3 separate regions of the Homo sapiens genome follow, and regions 1 and 2 are each linked to region 3. Evidence: fine-mapped expression QTL. A gene starts in region 3. Each other region holds a variant in brackets. All regions are shown on one strand. Distances are from middle to middle.

Region 1 (6,903 bases), 28 kb before region 3:
AAATACAGAAAATTAGCCAGGCGTGGTGGCGGGTGCCTGTAGTCCCAGCTAATCCAGAGGCTGAGGCAGGAGAATGGCGTGAACCTGGGAGGCGGAGCTTGCAGTGAGCCGAGATCGTGCCACTGCACTCCAGCCTGGGCGACAGAGTGAGACTCCGTCTCAAAAACAAACAAACAAACAAAAAGTGTGAGCCACAGAGCTCCAGCCCATGTTCCCCACTACTGCCACCCTGCCCAGGAGGTGCATGGAGCGTGGTGTGCACTCTGGGGCTGCGCCACAGCTCAGAGACCGTCCCATTTCAGGCCCAGATCTGCCTTCTTCCTCCTAAATGGGGCGGAGCATCCACAACAGAGCCCCCGATTCGGTTAACTGCTTCCCTGAGCATGTCACCGTCATTCATGATTTCTAGGGGGGTTTTTTGGCCTCTTTCCCCATCAAATATATTTGAGGGCAGGCAGGTCTGCATAAATCACACACCAAAAATCACAACTAGGTAATCAAAATGGAAAAACAGGGAAGCTCCTTCTTAGGAAATCCCCCAGAGAGGTCAAGTCAGAGCCTCCGGAAAACAAAAGGTGGTGCAGGAGTGGGTGGGTGGAGGGGCCGCCCGTGTTTAAATGTGGGTGTGACGAAGGTGGTGCAGGGGTGGGTGGAGGGGCCGCCCGTGTGTTTAAATGTAGGTGTGAGGGGGACACACTCACCATGGCTCACACTCATCCATGCACACTCAGCACGCGCCCACACACGCTCACATCCAGACACACGCTCTCTGGGCCACTCGAAGGCCATGAAGGCTGCACAGGAGGTGGTGCCTGGGGGAGGGACGTGAGGGTGCAAGGACACAGTTCCGGCTCTTATACCCTTCAGATTCCCAACCACGTGAACACAGTACTTATCCCAACATGCTGAAAAAAAAAACGCAAAAATCCGAAAGTTTTCCTCGTCATTCCCAAACAGCATTCAGCACCAAATGCCTGTGTGCTCAGGTGGCCGCCACGTACCACAGCGATGGACGGGTCAAGCTCCGCGATGCTCATGCGGCACGGCGGGTGCTGGCAGTGGAAGCTCTCGTCCGGGATGAAGCAGCCATCAGTGGGCTCCACGGCTGGCTGCGTGGTGTGGGGGTCCAGGTAGATGAGCTCCTCACCTGGGAGGATGAGGCAGGTGGGCAGGTGGGTGGCCGAGCCGGCAGAGGAAAGGGACAGAGGAGGCCGCATTTCAGACCCACTGCACCCACATCACACTGAGAAGCAGTGGGCAGGAGGTGGGGAGGGAGCCGAGGGCACCAGACCATCAGGGAAAGGGGCACACAGGAGGCCGCCCGCGACCAGGCTGAAAATGAACCCCAGGGCATGCTGCTTTTCCACCAGTGGCCTCAAGTGGTCACCTGGGGTGTGGTACCTGCTCATGGAATGCCCTTAAAAGGCCCAGGCCCACAGGGACACGGTGGGAACCCTGGACTCACCAACGTAGCCGATGAAGTAGTGGGCGCTGTTGGGCTTCCCTCCGATGACGCCCAGGGACTGGGGCATCATGAAGCAGTGCTGTGGAGGGGCGGGGGACTGAGCACAGGTCCCAGGTGGGAGCAGACGGTCCCCCCACCCACTGCCATAGGGGGCCCAAGGGCCTGCTGAGGCCCAACTGGGTGACACAAGAGGGGACAGGAGGGGACATGGTACCAAAGAGCTTACTGTCCAGGAAAGACCACAGGACATCCCACAGGCACAAGAAACCCAATCTGCAGGCTCAGCTCAGGGAAGCTTCATGTCAGAGGTGGGCTTTGGGGAGGCCGGGAGTGAGGGGGCCTGGCAGGAGATGTGAGCAGGGGTGCGGGAGGTGGCCCTGCTGAGTGCTTTGACCTGACAGGGCAGAAGCGATGGAGACGGGGCCTATGTGTGGGGGCAGCTGAGACCCCACAGGATGGGCAGAAGGCTGGACGGAGGGGCCAAGTTCAGACAACTGAATAATTTTAACAGGAAGCCACATTTCAGTTCCATACAAATGTGACTCCTTGGTCTAAAATTTGAGTTACCTGAAGAAAGGATGGTTTTCCCTTCTGCTTGCTTTTTTTTTTTTTTTATTTGAGATGGAGTCTCACTCTGTCACCCAGGATGGAGTGCAATGGCATGATCTCGGGTCACTGCAAGCTCCGCCTCCTGGGTTCAAGAGATTCTCCTGCCTCAGCCTCCTGTGTAGCTGGGACTACAGGCGCGCACCACCATGCCCGGCTAATTTTTATATTTTTAGTAGAGACAGGGTTTCACCATGTTGGCCAGGCTGGTCTCAGACTCCTGACCTCGTGATCTGCCCGCTTTGCCCTCCCAAAGTGCTGGGATTACAGTCATGAGCCACCGCTCCCCGCCCCCTTTTGCTTTCATGACATGGGGGAGCCTGTGGCTGGAGCTCCTCACACAGCCCTGCCCATCCCCAGGCCCTGCCCACACGTCCCTTCCTCACAGGCCAACCCACCCTCCGAAGGGACCTCAGGCCAAGAGGGCTGTGGGGGAGTGGGGTGGGCATGCCTGGGGCACAGTGGAGACCCGGGAGGGGGCGGGGCTCCCCGTCAGGCCGAGGAGTGGCACCTGGTTCCAAGGACCCCCTGCAAGCGCCTCATGCTTTCATCCTCGACACTCGCCTTGACACTTGCAGAACGAAAGCAGCACGTGCCTACTGATGGACGTGCCTCACGCCCACTCACCCCTTGGGCAACGGTGTAAACCAGGGTTGTTTACCCCTCCCCCGAGAGCCGGCTGCACAAATGGCCACGTGACGACGATGCGCTGAAAGTGACTAAGAACTGGGAGAAGGGGACGGGGACTCAGGGCAAGCGCCGCACGGCAGGACCCACCTTCAGCGTCTCCACGTAGGCCTCGTTGATGTCCGTGAGCCCCAGGCGCAGGGGAATGAGAAGTACCAGGGGTCTCCATGGCGACGGCCTGTTGGTGACCTCAGCTCCGGCAGGGAATCCGTTGCAGTGCCGGTCGGAATCTGCAGGAAACGCAGTGGCGCCTGCACAGGGAACGCTGGTCCTGCACAACCTTCCTAGAAAGGGAGACATGCTTTCACTAACCAAGCAGACCTGTGCAAAAGTGCTCCCACAACAAGCAAGCAAATGATGACTGTGTAACAGAAAAAGGGCGGTACAAAGCCAGGTGCTTACAGTGAAATTCAAACTTGGAAAATATAGAAAAGCGTAAGAAAATTTTTTCATAATCTTGCCACCCAGAGAAAAAAGAAATAGTTTCTATGCATACTTAATTCAAGAGTTTTATTGTGAAATAAAGCACACACACGAAACAGTGCAAGAAAAAGCCACGTGCACTTGAGAGGAAAATCACAGAAGTACCCACGCAGCCTGCCAGCCTGGCTAGTGCCAGCACAGCCAGAACCCGCTCCCTCCGGGCCTCCTCAGCAACGCCTTTCCTCGCTTCCACCCCTTCTGCCTACACACACCCGTGAGTCAATGGTCCGGAGGACACATCAACCGGAGGGTGCGGTGATGGGAGAAGACACTCCGGGAGCATGGAGCATGCCCGGCGTCTAGATCGAGGTTTCTCAACACCACTCCCCACTCAGAGGAGCCAGGCTGATTCCAGGGCCAGGCAGGGAATGTTCAGAGGTGCCTGCAGCATCTGCTTAACCCAGAACATAAGGGAGGGCTCA[A/T]AACATAAACGAAAAACGCCAGAACACGGCAAAAGACACCACCAGACTGAGGTGGCCACCGGCCAAAGGTGGAACCGTCAAGCATCAAAAAGATGGACAGTGACAGGTGACAGTGACAGTGACAGGTGACAGTGACTGACAGGTGACAGACAGGTGACAGGTAGCACACTGCACACTAAGTGATGGGAGAAAAGGCGGCTCTTCTCAGAACGCCAACCAATAAACGTGAAAGGAAAGGACAGGCTAGAAAAACCACCATTATCAGGCAGGAGTCACACAGCTCACCAGGACATGCTCAGTGTCACCACTGGATTATTCATTAATTACAAAGGAAAAAAGACACCATCTCCGGGGATCTGACATAGTGTCCCACTGCAGGCCCCGGATGGGAGAGCAGAGGACACTGCCACCCAGAGGCTACTCTCAGCCACAGGCTCAACCCAAGCCCAACTGTGAGGAAGCAGACAAATCCAGCGTGTGGGATGGTCAGCTGACCTGAACTCGTCAAAAATGCCACAAAGCAGCAACAACCACAACAAAGAGGCAGAACCTTCTCAATTAAAGACTAGAAAGACATCACAACTATATACACACAGCACCGGACCCTCAACCAGGAACACAAATCAGCGGCACGGGTTGTTCCCTGGACAGCAAGGGGCCAAGACGGACCCTGGTGAGTCGTGGCGTCACCTCTTTTGTGGTGATGAGGCTGTGTGGCTCTCAGGAACACTCTCATTCGTAGGAGGCTTGCTCATAAAAACCAAGCGTGTCAAAACACAATTGGTGGATCTAGGTGGAGGGTTTGTGGCCATGACTCACTGAACTTTTTTGTAGGACTCAAATTTCTCAAAACAGACAGCTGGAAAACAAGGATTCTGAGACAGAACTTTTTAAATTTCTTTTAGAGACGGGGTCTCACTCTGTCACCCAGGCTGCAGTGCAGTGGTGCAACCACAGCTCACTGCAGCCTCAAACACCTGCACTTAAGCAATCCTCCCGCCTCAGCCTCCCGAGTAGCTGGAACAACAGGTGTGGGCCACTGTGCCCCCTGACTTTTCTTTTTTGAAGCCGATTCTCTGTTGTCCAGGCTGGAGTGCAGTGGCATAATCTCGGTTCACTGCAACCTCCGCCTTCTGGGCTCAAGCAATTCTCCTGCCTCAGCCTCCCCAGTAGCTGGGATTACAGGTGTGTGTCACCACGCCCAGCTAATTTTTGTATTTTTAGTAGAGACGGGGTTTTGCCACATTGGCCGGGCTGGTCTCGAACTCCTGACCTCAAGTGATCTGCTCACCTCAGCCTCCCGAAGTGCTGAGATTACAGACATGAGCCATGTGCCTGGCCTCATTTTTCTATTTCTTATAGAGAGGGAGTTGTCCAGGTTGGTCTCAAGCAATCCTCCAACTCAGCCTCCCTGAGAGGTGCGATTATGGGTAGGAGCTACCACGCCCAGCCTTAAGGGAGTTGTTTGGGTTTCTGTTTGGTTTTTGAGACAGGGTCTTACTGTGTCACCCAGGCTGGAGTGAAGTGGTGCAATCATGTCTCACTGCAGCCTCAACCTCCCAGGCTCATGGGATCCTCCCACCTCAGACTCCCGAGTAGGTGGGACTACAGGTACATGCCCCCATGTCCGGCTAGTTTTTTTGTTTTGTTTTTTTGTAGAGATGAGGTTTTACCATGTTACCTAGGCGGCTGGTCTCAAACTCCTGGACTCAAGCAATCTGCCTGCCTCCACCTCCCAAAGTGCTAGGATTACAGGCGGGAGCCACAGTGCTTAGCCAAGGGAGGGATTTTAACTTTGATTTTTTTAAAACATATATGTTATTGCTTCAAAGAGCCAGTTCTAGTATGTGTTAGTTCTAATAAATTTAATTTTAAAATTTATTTTTAAAATATTTTATAGAATGAGGTCCAGGCACGGTGGCTCACGCCTGTAATCCCAGCACTCTGGGAGGCCAAGGTGGGCAGATCATGAGGTCAGGAGATCAAGACCATCCTGGCCAACATGGTGAAATATGGTGAAACCCCATCTCCACTAAAATACAAAAAATTAGCCAGGCGTGGTGGCATGCACCTGTAGTCTCAGCTACTCAGGAGGCTGAGGCAGGGGAATCACTTGAACCTGGGCAGCGGAAATTGCAGTGAGCCAAGATCGTGCCACCACTGCACTCCAGCCTGGCGACAGAGCAGAACTGTTCCAAAAAAAAAAAAAAAATAGACGTCTGGCTATGTTGCCCAGGCTGGTCTTGAATTCCTGGCTTTAAGCAATCCTCCTGCCTCAGCCTCACAAAGTGCTGGGATTACAAACATGAGCCACTACACCTGGCCTAATACATTTCTTCCTTTAAATCATTAATTTCTGTATTTGTCTTTAATATTATTCTTTGGTTTCTTCAGTTAATTTTGCTTTTTCCGAATTCTTGAGTTGTATGCTTATTTCATTAATTTTCACTTTGTAAAGAACCCATATACTAGTACTGAAGATACACAGGTTTTCTTCTGAGTTCTGTACACATCAGGTTCAGATACATAGTTACGGTCTCTACACTTGACTTTTTTGAGGTTTCACATTTCCAGGCAGCAGGGTTTTGTCCTTTTTTCATTTTATTCCGCATTAGTTTCATAGAAATTCCCAGGCACACTCTGCTGTCACAATCTAGGGTTTGACACGTATCTACTAAACTCTGCCTGTTGTGTTATCTGGGTCCCCTGTAGCTTTGATCTTTCCATAGCTAATCTGTTAATTATTCTGTTTTCTATATATTTTTATTATTTTTTGTTGTTTTGGTTTTTTGAGACACAGTCTTACTGTGTCACACAGGCTGGAGTGCAGTGGCATGATCTCAGCTCACTGTAGCCTCTGCCTCCCAGGTTCAAGCAATTCTCGTGCCTCAGCTTCCCGAGCAGCTGGGATTACGAGGGCGTGCCACCATGCCCAGCTAACTTTTTTTTTAGTAGACATGGGGTTTTACGATGTTGACCAGGCTGGTCTTTAACTCCTGACCTCATGTGATCTACCCACCTTGGCCTCCCGAAGTGCTGGGATTATAGGCGTGAGCCACCGCGCCCGGCCCGCTTTATTGGTTTTGAAGTTGGGATTATAGGCGTGAGCCACCATGCCCGGCCCGCTTTATTGATTTTGAAGTTGGGATTATAGGCGTGAGCCACCGCGCCCGGCCCACTTTATTGGTTTTGAAGTTGGGATTATAGGCGTGAGCCACCGCGCCCGGCCCGCTTTATTGA
Region 2 (5,964 bases), 35 kb before region 3:
TGTGAAATCCCCACGAGCACAGAGGACAGAACGAAACATGGTGTTGTTTTGAAACAGGGTGTTACTGTGTCACCCAGGCTGGAGTAGAGTGGTGCCACATTTTTTGTAGAGACGGGGTGTCCCTGTGTAGCCCAGGCTGGTCTTGAACTCCTGGGTACAAGCAGTCCTCCCTCGTGGGCCTCCCAAAGTGCTGGGATTACAGGCGTGGGCTCCCGTGACCAGCCTGGAACGTGCTGATGAGCCTCTTTTTCTCCTGAAACCCCGGTGGGAACAGATGGTGGATGCTTCCAAAAGCATCGAAGCTGTCCATGAGGACATCCGCGTGCTCTCTGAGGACGCCATCCGCACTGCCACAGAGAAGCCGCTGGGGGAGCTATGGAAGTGACCCAAGGCTGCCCACTGGAGACGCCTCTCCCTGCAGTCCCCCGAGAGGTGGGAGACTCGCGGAAGGCCCCGTCCCCAGCAGAGTCCAGACCCCACAACTTCAGGAGCTCTTTCCCGGCAGCAGAGATCTGCAGGCTGCCTCTTCTGCCCCGGAGCTGGGGTGCACTGGGGACCCCCGTGGTGGGGACCTTGGCAGTGTGGACATGAGCAGAGCGATGGAGCAGTCTCCTGCCCTCTCCCCTGTCCTGATGGCACTCTGTTGTATTTTCTTACTGAAGTTCAGTGATAACTCTGAGCAGTTTCATTGTGATCACTGTAAATGGTAATCAGTTGGAATTCTCCTAAATGTCTTCCAGACACTAGTAAAAAACGACCTGAAAATTGTTTGTGGAACGCTTCACTTTTCTTAGACTGAGGACGGAGCTGGCTTTGAATGGGAACCTCCATCCCAGGAGAGAAGAGCCTTCATTGGGCCCAGTAGGGCCTTCCTGGACCCTGGTTCCTGCCTAGTTGAGGGAGTCCCACTGTGGGTCTGAACAGTTGCAGCCATGCCCTGGGCTCGCTGGGTCCAGCCAGGCTATATCCGAGTGTCATCACAGCTTACGTCCTGAACTCACCTAAGTTAACTCTGCTATTTTCATTGCAACCCTGGAGCTTAACTTCTCATCCTATCCTTTATTTTTTATTTTTTTGGAAACAGGGTCTCACTGTCGCCCAGGCTGGAGTGCAGTGGCACGATCGTGGCTCACTGCAGCCTTGACCTCCTGGGCTCAGGTGATCCTCCTACTTCAGCCTCCTGAGTAGCTAGGCCTACAGGCCTTCACTGTGCCTGGGTAATTTTTTTGTGGAGACAGGATTTCGCTATGTTGCCAGCCAGGCTTGTCTTAAACTCCTGGGCTCAAGTGATCTACCTGCCTTGGCCTCCCCAAAGTGCTGGGAGTACAGGCATGAGCCACCATGCCGAGCCCATTGCATCCCCTTTTAAGTGACACTTAGAAGGAATGATTTGACACTCCTGGCAGAATCTGTCCCACAGAGCACACTCCGCATAGACAGCAGCATACAGTGTGCTGGAGTAGAAGGCAGGCAGGGTCCCCCATCTGTGGGGGCAGCAGCTGTGGGTCTCAGCACCCTTCTGTGGCCAAGAGACAAACCCAGGCAAAACAAAAGGATTTCACTCTTGGGTAAGCATTGCCAGGGGCTGTGGGATGGGCCTGGGTGAGGAACCTTCAGATGAGACTTTCCTGGACTATCCAGGTGGGCCCAGTGTCATCACAGGGGCCTTTTTTTGTTGTCTTAAGACTGGGTCTCACTCTGTCATCCAGGCTGGAGTGCAGTGGTGCAATCTTGACTCACTGCAGCCTCTCTTTCCTGGGCTCAAGTGATCCACCTTAGCCTCCCAAAGTGCTGGGATTACAGGCTGGCGCCACCATGCCTGGCCCATCACGGGTCCGCATAACAGGGAGGCAGGCGGTCCGAGTCAGGAAATGAGATGCCAACAGCAAAAGCTGGAGAGATGCCATGTTGCTGGCTGTGTGGTTGGAGGAAAGAGCCATGAGCCAAGCAGTTTCTGGCATCCAGAAGCTAGAAAGGCACAGCAACGTTCTCCCCTAGAGCCCACAGCACGATATGGCTGTCTGCCCTCCGGGTCTGGAAGAGGCTGTGCTGTTCCAGGCACTGAATGTGATCATCTTTTAGAGCAGCCACAAGAAGCGAATACGAGCATCGGAGAGGCCACAAGTCCTCAGCCACCTCACCGGGGACCCAGCAGGGCCCCCTCCGATCTGGCTTTGGGCCCTTCACACCTATACCAGGGCTGCCCACAGGGATGCACTGGCCAGAGTGAGCAATGTCCTCACCAAGCCCCCTGCTGTGCCCCAGGCATGGCCTCCCACAGGCCAGGACAGTCACTGCGCACTTGGGGAAGGCTTTGCTATGATTCAAATCGAGGCAAACCCTGCAACTCCAGGCACTTCCTGTGACTTCCTCCTGCTGAAGATGGGAACCGCCATTTTACTTTCCTAAAATCCTATTTTCCTTGCACTTTTTCCTTCTAGGGTTGTATGAGGTGGCTGATGCCACGGCTGGTAGAGAGCCAGGCTGCAGGCAGGACAGGCCCCCTGCCAGGGCTGGGGACACACCTGCTCAGGGCCCCACAGCCCGCCACGCAGGCAGCCACATCCTTTACGTGTGAACGGGCTGAAACATTCACTTATTTTTTTTCTGGAACTCACATTCAATTAGAACTTAAGGAAAAAATAGACACAAGGTTTGTTTTCTACTGAAACTTATTATTTGCCATTAAGAATTGCAAACTATACTACTAAGAATGAACAACATTCTCTTCATTAAGCCTTTTTCAAAACACACGAGACAAAGCTCCCCTTTGGTCAAGGTGTCCCACACATTACCACTGCAGCTCCCAGCACAGCGGCGCACCATGAACTCGGACGTGGAGCCCAAGGAATGGAGATCGCACCAGCCTTCCCTGCTTCCCCACCCCAACTACACCCAAGGGAGAAAGGATACGAGGAAATACACTATGTCTTCAATGCTTGGGGGGCTGGGGGTGTCCTCTGCTACCAGGTGGGCCGGTCAGTGCCGACTGTCCGGCGCGCGTCCTCGGGGATCTCTGGCTCCCCGACCTACACAAGCAGCAGCAGCAGCAGC[G/AGCG]AGTCCTGCCAACGCCGCAGTAGCTGCTCATGAGAAAAGTGCCCACGCTCCCCAAGCCCTCCTGTTTACATTTCCTAGTGGGGCAAAGATACTTTCCCAGGACAGGCAGCAGAGCAGCGGGGCAGAGTGCACTCTGGGACCCGGGACAGCAGGTTACACAGGGTCAGGCGGTGGTGGGTGCTGGAATCGGGGCTGAGGTTCTGGAAATGCCACCAGGTGATGCCACCCTGTGGTGTCTGCCCACCACACACCACAAGACTCAAGTGGTTTTCCCCTTTTGGCCCTAAACCACCTAACACCTCAGCGGCATGGGAGGGCAATTCTCAGCAAGGCAAGGACATGGGGAAGGCTCCTGGGAGAGGCACGCCGTCCACCCTCAAGCCTGGCTGTCACAGGTGGAGGCCCCGCCCCCCCCCCGTCACCACACCTGGGGAAGCTGCCACAGAATGCCACAGCACTGGAAAGGGACACTCTGAGGGCAGGCTCCAGCAGCAGCTCCAGGACAGCCAGCCGCCCTTCTGCCCAGGCCGCCCACGCTGTGTCCTGTGCACGCCATCTTCAGGTTTCCCACACACCCACTTCCTGAATACTTTTCTCCCCAAAGCAAGGAGGAACCTCGCCTTCGTTCCTCCAACCTCATCTCCCACTGAGGTAGCCCTTGGTAAGCCAGGCTGGGCAGAGAGGACACAGCGGTGGGCGCGCCCCCCTCGAGAGCAGCCCAGTCCTTGGGCGTGGGGCCGCAGTGTGGCTGCCGCTCCTCTCACGCCAGCCTGCACAGGTCTTCTGAGACTCTGACTCAGGGAGCGCCCAGAAATTCATGTCTGTGTCTGACAACTTCAAACAGGACTTTAATTCCAAACCAACCACAGAACCGGCGCCTGGGAGCAAGTGGGACTGAGGCCCAGGTGCTAACACGGGGCTGGCAGTGTCGAGAGAACACTCTGGAAGCTCCTAACAGACGGCTCCGCGTGCGGATGCACAGGCCCTGACGGGCACTCTGAGCTGGGCAGTCTGACACCAAGCAGTAAGGCCTCCCGGGCAGCGCAGCCTCAGTCCACGAGCACAGCGGGTGGCCCTCTGGGGGGAGGCAGCACGGGGCGCAGCCCTCGGCAGGCGAGCGGGCGGGATGGATGAAACGCAGCGGCACCAGGAGCCCCAGGCTCTCACAGGTGCCACCCCCGACCCCAGGATTTTCAAAGGGACAGGATTTCAAAGTCTTCATCTTCTGAGTCGAAGAATCTTTCCAGTCGCTCTACATCAGAAGAATCTAGAAGGAACAGGACATAGCGCATCAGGCATCTTGGGTGGGCCACCTGGGTGTGAGTCAAGGGCCCTTGGCGTGGGGCAGACTGAGCAGTGCCTGCTCTGCAGCCCACAGACAGCTGTCCCCATGCGGGTGTGAACAGGTCCGGGGGTTGTGCAGACCTGCGAATATGGGGGGAGGGAGCAGAGAAGAGGAGCAGGGCAGGGTGAGGAGGGCAGGGGGCGGCCGGCACAATCTCAGGCCTGAGGGGCCTCTGTCCCGCGTCTGACCCTCGTGGTCATCAGGAGTGGTTCCATTGCCATTGCCTTGTTTGTAGAGTTTCCCACAGGGAGACAGAGATGAGGAGGACGCGCTCACGGCCACTCACTTCACTGCACGAGCCCAGGCCGGCTCCTGCGGCACGCTGGCCATGGTCCGAGGGGTCTACGCCACCCATGGCCAGTGGTGCCCAAGTGAACCAGTCCCCCACCCAGGACTGCGTCACCACAGAGCCTGCATGTTCTGTCTGCTCCAGACCCCTGAGGACTCCATGGTAGCACGCCCAGCTCCACAGCGCCCGGGCAGGCAGCGCTGGTGGGGAAGACGAGGTGGGTCCTGGGCTGCTGGGCGCAAGCTTGGAGGAGGGGACGCTCCACTCCATACCTGGTCTCACAGGCGAACCACTGCCAAGTGCTCACGGCTCAGGCTCACACACACCTTAATGGTCAAAACCAAGGGGGCCAGGACTGGGGAAGCAAGGGCACAGATCGTACCTCCGAGGGACCCCACCTGGACTTGGCAGCTCTCACCTAGGGACAGGTTCAGGACGTCGGGGCAGGCCAGATGTGAAGGCTGCAGCTCCACCAGCTCAAACATGGGCAGGGCACCTCCAAGCAGAGACAGCTGTTAGTGAGACATGGCCGTTAGGTGCAGCCTCACCCCAGTGCTTGCTGCGGCCAAGAGAAAGGGGCCAGCCGGCCACAGCCAGCGGACAAACCTGTCATCCCATCTCACTGATGAGAAAACAGAGGCAGCTCCACACTAAAGGCTACACGAGAACCCAGTGTGGTGATCAACACACAGCACAGTCTGACCACCACGGCAGAGGGGGGTGGGCCACACGCACTCGGCCGGCGTAGCTCAGCACCCCATCACCACCCCCATCTCAACAGGAGACGGATGAGGACACTGGAAATCCCATTCTAAAGTCAACACGCAACATCCGTCCCCAGGGTTGTTAACTGTGTTGCCAGATGGGCAATCCAGGACGCCCCACCCTGCTCAGCTACATAGCTGTGCCAGGCGGGACAAAGCTCCCCACGGCCCAGTGAGGCTGCCTGAGACCTGGACGCAGGCCTTCGACCCCTGCACGCCCCACTGCCTGTCTCCCTGGGTGGCTCAGCTCGGCTGTGGGTGTGGGGCGGCTACAAACCTTTTTGACTTGCTGGCACCAATCATTGAAGTCATCTTCAGTCTTACAGAAAAACCCCTAAAACGAAATGACGATGAGCAGAACACGACACCCCCATCTGCAGTCGGCTAAGAGGTGGGGGCTTCCATTCCCACTGCCAGTGGCGCAGCAGAGGCCCCCAGCATGCAGGTGCTGGACATTCCAGCCTGCCTTGGCTCCTGTGGCCAGGAACGGAGCTCCGAGGGTGCCCTGTGCA
Region 3 (6,903 bases):
TCTACAAGGATGTCTAACATCCACCTCACATTCAACACACATAAATCCAAACTCGCAACAGAAAGCTTCCCACCAGACAGGACCTCCCCAAGTCTTCCCCATCTGAGTTTCTTTTTTTTTTTTTTTTTGAGACAGAGTCTCGCTCTGTCGCCCAGGCTGGAGTGCAGTGGCGCAGTCTTGGCTCACTGCAAGCTCCGCCTCCCGGGTTCACGCCATTCTCCTGCCTCAGCCTCCTGCGTAGCTGGGATCACAGGCGCCCGCCACTATGCCCGGCTAATTTTTTGTATTTTTAGTAGCGACGGGGTTTCACCGTGTTAGCCAGGATGGTCTCGATCTCCTGACCTTGTGATCCGCCCACCTCGGCCTCTCAAAGTGCTGGGATTACAGGCGTGAGCCACCACGCCCGCCCCCCTCCATCTGAGTTGCTTAGCTCAGGCCATACACTATGGGGCCATCTTTAACTCCTCCCTCTCTACCCATCCCTCTCCCAACTTCCAATCTACAAACAAATTCTATTGTCTCAACCTCCAAAACACATGCAGAAGTCAACCTCTTACCCACCCTGAGCTAATCCACTGGCATCTCCTTGCTGGCTTGTTCAACAGTCTCTTAGCTGGTCTCGCTGCCTCTGCCCTTGCCCCTCTGCAGTACATTCTCAAAAGAGATGCCAGAGCAAGCCTGTTGAACACAGTCTATCATGTGACTCCTCCTCTAGAATGAAACCTTCCAAACGGCTGCCATCCTGTTCAGAATAAACACTGAGTCCTCACTATGAGCTGCCATCCTGTTCAGAATAAACACCGAGTCCTCACTATGAGCTGGCAAGGCCCCACTACACTGAGCCTAAGTCACCTTTCTATCCTCAGCTCCTGCTTCTCCCACCGCCACCCGCTGCACCTGAGCCACACCAGGCTCTTGCTACCTGCCCTTCCTCCTACACTGCTTTAAGTCTTCGTCAAAACTTAAACCTTCAGAGTGAGACCCTTCCTGGCCATCCTGGCTACAATTCCAATCCTCCTCATCCTTGGCCCAAATCACCATCCCCCAGGAGCCACGCACTTCGCTGCTAATGCTGGTCTCATGTCTAGAACGTTAGCTACCCCAGGGCAATGGTTTTCATCTATGTTGTTACTTCTCTAGTCCTAGTGTCTAGAACAATGCCTAACACATATCTGACAGTCAGTAACAAACAGTGTATTGAATTAATGACTATCAGAACAGAAACTGTATTACACATGGTCAAGGAAGGCAGAATCTTCAAGAACTCTAGAGATCAAAGGAGGGCAGATCATTAATCATCTCTGAAAGGAAATACAGCATCAAGTCAGAAGGAAAATTCCCCATGATATCCTACAAACATCATATACGTTTTTATCAGCATAAACAGAGACCTTTAAATGCAAACACCTTTTCTACTCTGATCCCACATGCAGCAACATCCAGTGTCCTATTAAAGTATCACCATGTCAACACAGTTGTCAAGGGAAAATAAAAGATAAAATAAAGTATCGCCATGTAACAACATAACTGTTCTCCCAACTTGAACATGATGATTTTCACATTTTAGGTCATATGATCGACACTGAACCGTGTTTTTGACCTTAGCCAAGTCTCTCATATGATACTCCAGCCTCAAGGTATCGAAATGATAGAGGCAGGAGGCAGACAAATCCTAGGCAGAGAGGGGTGGGTCACCAGTGAAACCCAACCTTCAAGCCACAGTTTAAAGCCTGAAAGCCAAGCGACGAGTCTCGGATAAATCCACAGACTGGATTGCGAACCTCTCTTCCTGTTTGGTGCGCTTTCCTCTAATTAATCCCCACCCTTCACCTATTTTACATATACCTACTTTTCTCTAATTGGTTTATTACACTGTTGTGCCCACCTTTGAGTAGTGACTTTGTTTTAACCTTTTTTGCATACTCACAGACAAATCAGCACACACTCCCCATTCTGAGCCTATAAAAGCCCTGGACCCAGCCACACCAAGGGAGACCACCCGACTTTGGGTGGAAGACCACCCTTGAGTCCCCTCTCTGCTGAGGGGTGTTTCATCACTCAATAAAACTATTCTCCACCCTCCTCACCCTTCGATTGTCAGTGTTAAGTGTAGTCTCATTCTTCTTGGACGTGGGACAAGAACTAGGGACCCAATGAATGCAAGTACAAAGAAGGCTGTAACACTGTGGCCCTGGGCCCTCTGCCGGCAAAGGGCAGCCACCCACTGTGACACCCCACGTGACAGGAGGCAGCAAAGGGAAGCAGCGGGGACGGAGCCAGCCCCAGAGCTATAGCCTGGAGCAGGGCAATGGGAGTAACAGGGCTGCTGACACTCTGCAACACCCCCTCTTGGGCTTCAGGGTTGTAAGCACCCCTGCTTGGGCGCCACTACCTTCCCCTTGTCTGGACACCAGAATCCACTGTCCCTTTGTCTGGACGCTGGAGTCCGCCGTGGGAGTTGCTTGCCACATGTCTAGCTGTAAGCTCTGCAGAGCCCACTCTGGTGCCTGCGCTTGAAACAGCTGGCGGGACCCGGCACTCACTCACCCACACACCCACTCCCGCCAGGGGCTGAGCATACAGTCATGGTGGCCATGGTATCCGTGCCATAGTGCAAACCAGGTGCCCACCGGTGGACCAAGTAGATGGGGTATCTCCTGCGGCGAGCCTGGACCCAAGCAAGGCCTGGGCAGGGGCCTCGCCAGCCGGAGGTCTCTGGCTGCCAGAGTGGCTGAGAAAAATCCTGCATCACAAACAATAACACCTAAAAAGATATAATACAACAGTTGTAAAATAGTAAACAACAAATAGTACACAGCTGCAAATAGTTCAACCGTGAATGACGGTTATTCTAAAAGACAAACTTCACAAGATATACACCTGGTCAACATGCTCCTTAGGGAGTCAGGGCTCCTGTTTCCTCCAGCCACCTACCACATTTAAGTGGTGAGCTGCTACAAATCATTTTAATAGATATTGGCAATACACATTACAGTTTTCCAACTCAGATCTTAATAAATTTATGTTGTAGCTACCAGAAAAATAAAAAGTAAAAACAATCCCATTCAGAATGACAGAATTAAACCAGATGAAAATCTTTCTTTACAGATGGGGGATACTTGGTAAAAGGCAAATCAGTTCCCACAAAGAATGAATGAGCTAAAACTTCTGTGTAAAAATATTTCTAGGGCTACTGGGCTAGCGATGGGTTTGGCGCTGACTTAAAATAATCTTGCTAGCAAAAATGGAGCGGAAGCATGAAAGGATAGGAAAAAAACCAACACTCCCTATACACACACACACACACTCCTTCTCTTTCTCTCTCTCTTAGGACCCCAAGAAACTAAGACCCGATGATACAAATTCACTGTTTCTCTTTCTCGTCACGGAAAAGCAGCTTGGAGAATCTACTGGTTACTAAATTGAAGACAAAAACAAAAAAGATACGTATACTGTGATGAACACGTCACGTTTCTCTCCTCCAACCTACCAATAACTTCATAAAAGTTAAAGAGCTTCCATCCCTTCACGCTCAGCTGCGGAAAGGCTACGCTTTCGCCCGCCGCTCGCGTCCCCGGCCCGGACCGCGGCCGCCCCGTTCGCCGCCGCGCCTCTCCCCGCCCGGCAGGCTCCGCCGCCCTCCACGGCCGACCTGGCGCAAGGGCCTGTGCAGCCACAACCTCCGGAGCGCTCCGGACGGGACCGGAAAAGCAGAAGCTCCAGCGCAACCGACGGCGGGTTCCGCGGCGCAGTGCGCCGCCGTCCCCCTCCCGCTCCCACCGCCCACCACCCACCAACACCGCCCCGCGCTCCCGCAGCGCCCGCCGCCCCGGCCCAGCCTGGCCCGCACCGGCGTGCCCCGAGGCGAGTCGCGGCAGCCCGACCCGAGCAGGGGAGGCCAATGATAAGGCGAGCACCTCCTGCGGAAAGACCGACCCCCGGCAACTCCTCACCTGCGTCCATCTTCCCAGTCCGGCCGCCGACTGACCCGAGCGGCGTCGCTCCGACGGGCCAGCAACGCGACGCGGCGACGGGACGCCGCGGGGGCCAATAGGTGTGCCGGCGCAGGCGGCGAAGACGATACGGCGCGCGAGCGGAAATACGCGGGAGCCGCCATTTTGGCGTACGGCCGGGCCGACGCGAGCCCCGGGGCGCCCTGCGGGCGGCATGGGGTCGTGTCGTGGGACGACGGCTGGTTCTGCTGTCCGACGGGACACTGTGTGCCATGGGTGGCGCTTCCTCCTCTTAGAGGACCCAGGAGCAGTTGTCGAGGCGGCAGAGGCGAGCTCTGTCCCCGTCCGAGCAGCCATCTTGCGGTACGGACGTGCTCGGCGCGCCCATGTCGCGGTACGGACTTGCCCCGCCGGGGCGACTCCCCCGCCCGTCTGCCCGCCTGCCGACGGACGCTGCGAGGGGCCTGCGGCGCCCCGCTGGTCCGAAGACGCCCGAACCCGCGGCTGGCGAGGACGCGGGCGGGGGCTGGGGCGGGGGCGGGCCCGCTGCGGGCGCCTGCGCCTCCATCTTGCCGTACGGCGCGGACGCCGCGGGCCGGCCCACGTCCCGAGCCGTGTCGCCGCCGCGCTCCCTCCCTCGGGGCGGTCCGCGGGCGGGCGGGCGGCTAGGGCCGGGGCCTGGCTGCGCGGCTGGGCCAAGGCCCGCGATGGTGATCTGCTGTGCGGCCGTGAACTGCTCCAACCGGCAGGGAAAGGGCGAGAAGCGCGCCGTCTCCTTCCACAGGTACGCGGGCCCCGGGCCGCCACGCCCCCGCCCCGACCCGGCCCTGCGGGGAAACTGAGGCCCCGCGGCCGGCCCGAACGCGGGGGGCGGGGGCGCCGGGCCTCGGCGGCCGGGGCGCGGGGGAGCGGGCGTGGGCGCTGTGTGACCTTGGCCCGGCCGCCGTCTCTGGGCCGGGCGCCTCGGGCAGCGCAGCCGCCCCCACCCCGGCCGCCTGGGTCCGCCCTGCGCGCGATCGATCCGGCCGGCGCCTAGGCTTCAGAAGCCGCACGCTCTGGAAGCGCAGGTCCTGGGCCGATTGTCCTGCTCGGCCGCGACTGCTGACTCTCCGGACCGCGCGGGCCGTCGGCCTGGATGTCTGCGAGCAGGAGCGACCGGGCAGACGCGACCTGCGCCTCCGTAGCTGACAGCCCCCGAGAGGGCTTTCCGGGACTGGGCCCCCGAGCCCAGGACGCGGGTACGCGCGGAGAGTCTACGGGACGGCCGGCTGGGGACGGCATCCTCCTGCGCTCCCTTAGAGCCTGGCCCGGGGCTCTCGGCCGCTTCCCACGTGGGCCCCCGCGGCAGGGCCCAAACCCCTCTAAGGCCTTGTGAGTTCAGCCTATTTCAGTGAGATTTCTGCGGATTACACGCGGGAGGCACCAGAACCGCGAACAGACTTTAAAAACCACTTTGGAGATGTTTCTGTTTTATGTTGCATGGTGTTATTTAAGTTTTAAAGACGGGAATGGCACGTGTTATTTATAGGGTTATTGAAAGTTCACAGTAGTTTGCTGTAAGTCTTAAATCATTACAATGTATTATAAGAATTAGTAACATTAGATTATTTCACAAGTCAGCCAGCGCACTTTCTTGACAATTTCCTTCAGAGCTTGTGTCCTAGAAGTTTTGTTATTGTTTTTTGAAAACGAGGCAACGTGTTGCAACGGTCTAACATGGTATGGGAGGAAAGGACATCGGAATTGGGGGTGGGGGGGTACCTTTGCAGTTGGCCTCACAGTGTTCAGAAAGGAGGTTAGAAGGTCCTGTTGCTTAGAACGGCCCAGTCCATCCTGTTAGGATTTGTCCTGGTCCACACTGGCCTCAGGTGGAGCAAATAGCAGTTAGAACTGACCACCCTGTCCCTTATGTGCACATTAGGGCCTGGTTTTTTTTTCTTTTTTTCTCTTTTTTTTGAGAAGGAGTCTCCCTCTGTCGCCCAGGCTGGAGTGCATTGGTGCGATCTCGGCTCACTGCAACCCCCGCTCCTGGGTTCAAGCTATTCTCCTGCTTCAGCCTCCCAAGTAGCTGGGATTACAGGCAAGCGCCACCACGCCTGTCTAATTTTTTTGTATTTTTAGTAGAGACAGGGTTTCACCATATTGGCCAGGCTGGTCTCGAACTCTGGCCTCAAAGTCCTGACCTCAAGTGATCCACCCGCCTCGGCCTCCCAAAGTGCTGGGATTACAGGCATAAGCCACCCCGCCCGGCCCAGGCCTATGTTCTTAAACACAGAGTTTGCCTTAATGAAGAAATGGTTATGAAGGATCTTTATTAGGTAATAAAGAAATGACTAAACATCCTATTCAGTATCTTCCTGCGCTGGTTGCTTTTTTCTCACCATTTTTAAATTATGGTATAATACATGTAACATGAAATTTACCATCCTAACTTTTTTTGGAGACAGAGTCCCACTCTGTCACCCAGGCTGGAGTGCAATGGTATGACCGTAGCTCACTGCAGCCTCAGCCTCCTGGACCCAAGTGGTCCTCCCATCTCAGCCTCCAGAGTAGCTGGGATCACAGGCATGAGCCACGGCTCCCAGCCTTTCCTACCGCTTTTTCAGTGTACAATTCATGGCAACAAATACATTCACGTTGTTGTGCAGCTGTCACTACCATCCACCTCCAGAATTATTTTTATTTTGTAAAGCGGAATCTCTGGACTCATTAAACATTAATACCCCAGTCCTCCTCTCCCTAGGCTCTGGGAACCCGCATTCTCCTGTCTCTATGAATTTGATTACTCTGAGTACCTCATGTGAGTGGTATCATGCAGTGTTTGTTTTTTTGCACCTGCCCTATTTCATTCAGTATAATGTCCTCAAGGATCATCTGAGTTGGTTGATTTTTTTTGAGGGGAGAAGACCGGGTTTCACTCTGTTCCCCAGGATGGGGAGCAGTGGTGCAG

The links. PIP is the estimated chance that this variant, and not a neighbour inherited with it, causes the effect. A credible set is the group of variants that fine-mapping cannot tell apart.
Region 1: its variant is the best candidate, but not a certain one, in a credible set for the expression of ATG4B in whole blood (INTERVAL, PIP 0.89).
Region 2: its variant is the best candidate, but not a certain one, in a credible set for the expression of ATG4B in sigmoid colon (GTEx, PIP 0.82).

What each region holds. Positions count from the first base shown.
Region 1 is chr2:241,662,784-241,669,686 of GRCh38, reverse strand. It overlaps ATG4B (autophagy related 4B cysteine peptidase), which reads right to left. Exons shown (of 13, transcript NM_013325.5): 8 at 2,849-3,042; 9 at 1,466-1,544; 10 at 1,002-1,147. Among named protein-coding and RNA genes, the nearest start is that of DTYMK, 21 kb to the left of the region's middle. RefSeq lists enhancers at 502-1,001, 1,002-1,503, 3,598-4,203. The variant A/T (reference allele first, on the strand shown) is at 3,664.
Region 2 is chr2:241,670,548-241,676,511 of GRCh38, reverse strand. It overlaps ATG4B (autophagy related 4B cysteine peptidase), which reads right to left. Exons shown (of 13, transcript NM_013325.5): 11 at 5,730-5,786; 12 at 5,107-5,200; 13 at 2,655-4,321. The coding sequence ends at 4,248. DTYMK (deoxythymidylate kinase) reads left to right here. Exons shown (of 5, transcript NM_012145.4): 5 at 275-765. The coding sequence ends at 385. Among named protein-coding and RNA genes, the nearest start is that of DTYMK, 13 kb to the left of the region's middle. The variant G/AGCG (reference allele first, on the strand shown) is at 3,055.
Region 3 is chr2:241,634,775-241,641,677 of GRCh38, reverse strand. ATG4B (autophagy related 4B cysteine peptidase) reads right to left here and starts at 3,985. Exons shown (of 13, transcript NM_013325.5): 1 at 3,954-3,985. The coding sequence starts at 3,963. THAP4 (THAP domain containing 4) reads left to right here and starts at 4,520. Exons shown (of 6, transcript NM_015963.6): 1 at 4,520-4,737. The coding sequence starts at 4,661. RefSeq lists enhancers at 2,504-3,037, 3,437-4,364 and silencers at 3,528-3,667, 3,708-3,897, 3,918-3,967, 4,338-4,687, 4,718-4,787 and 1 more.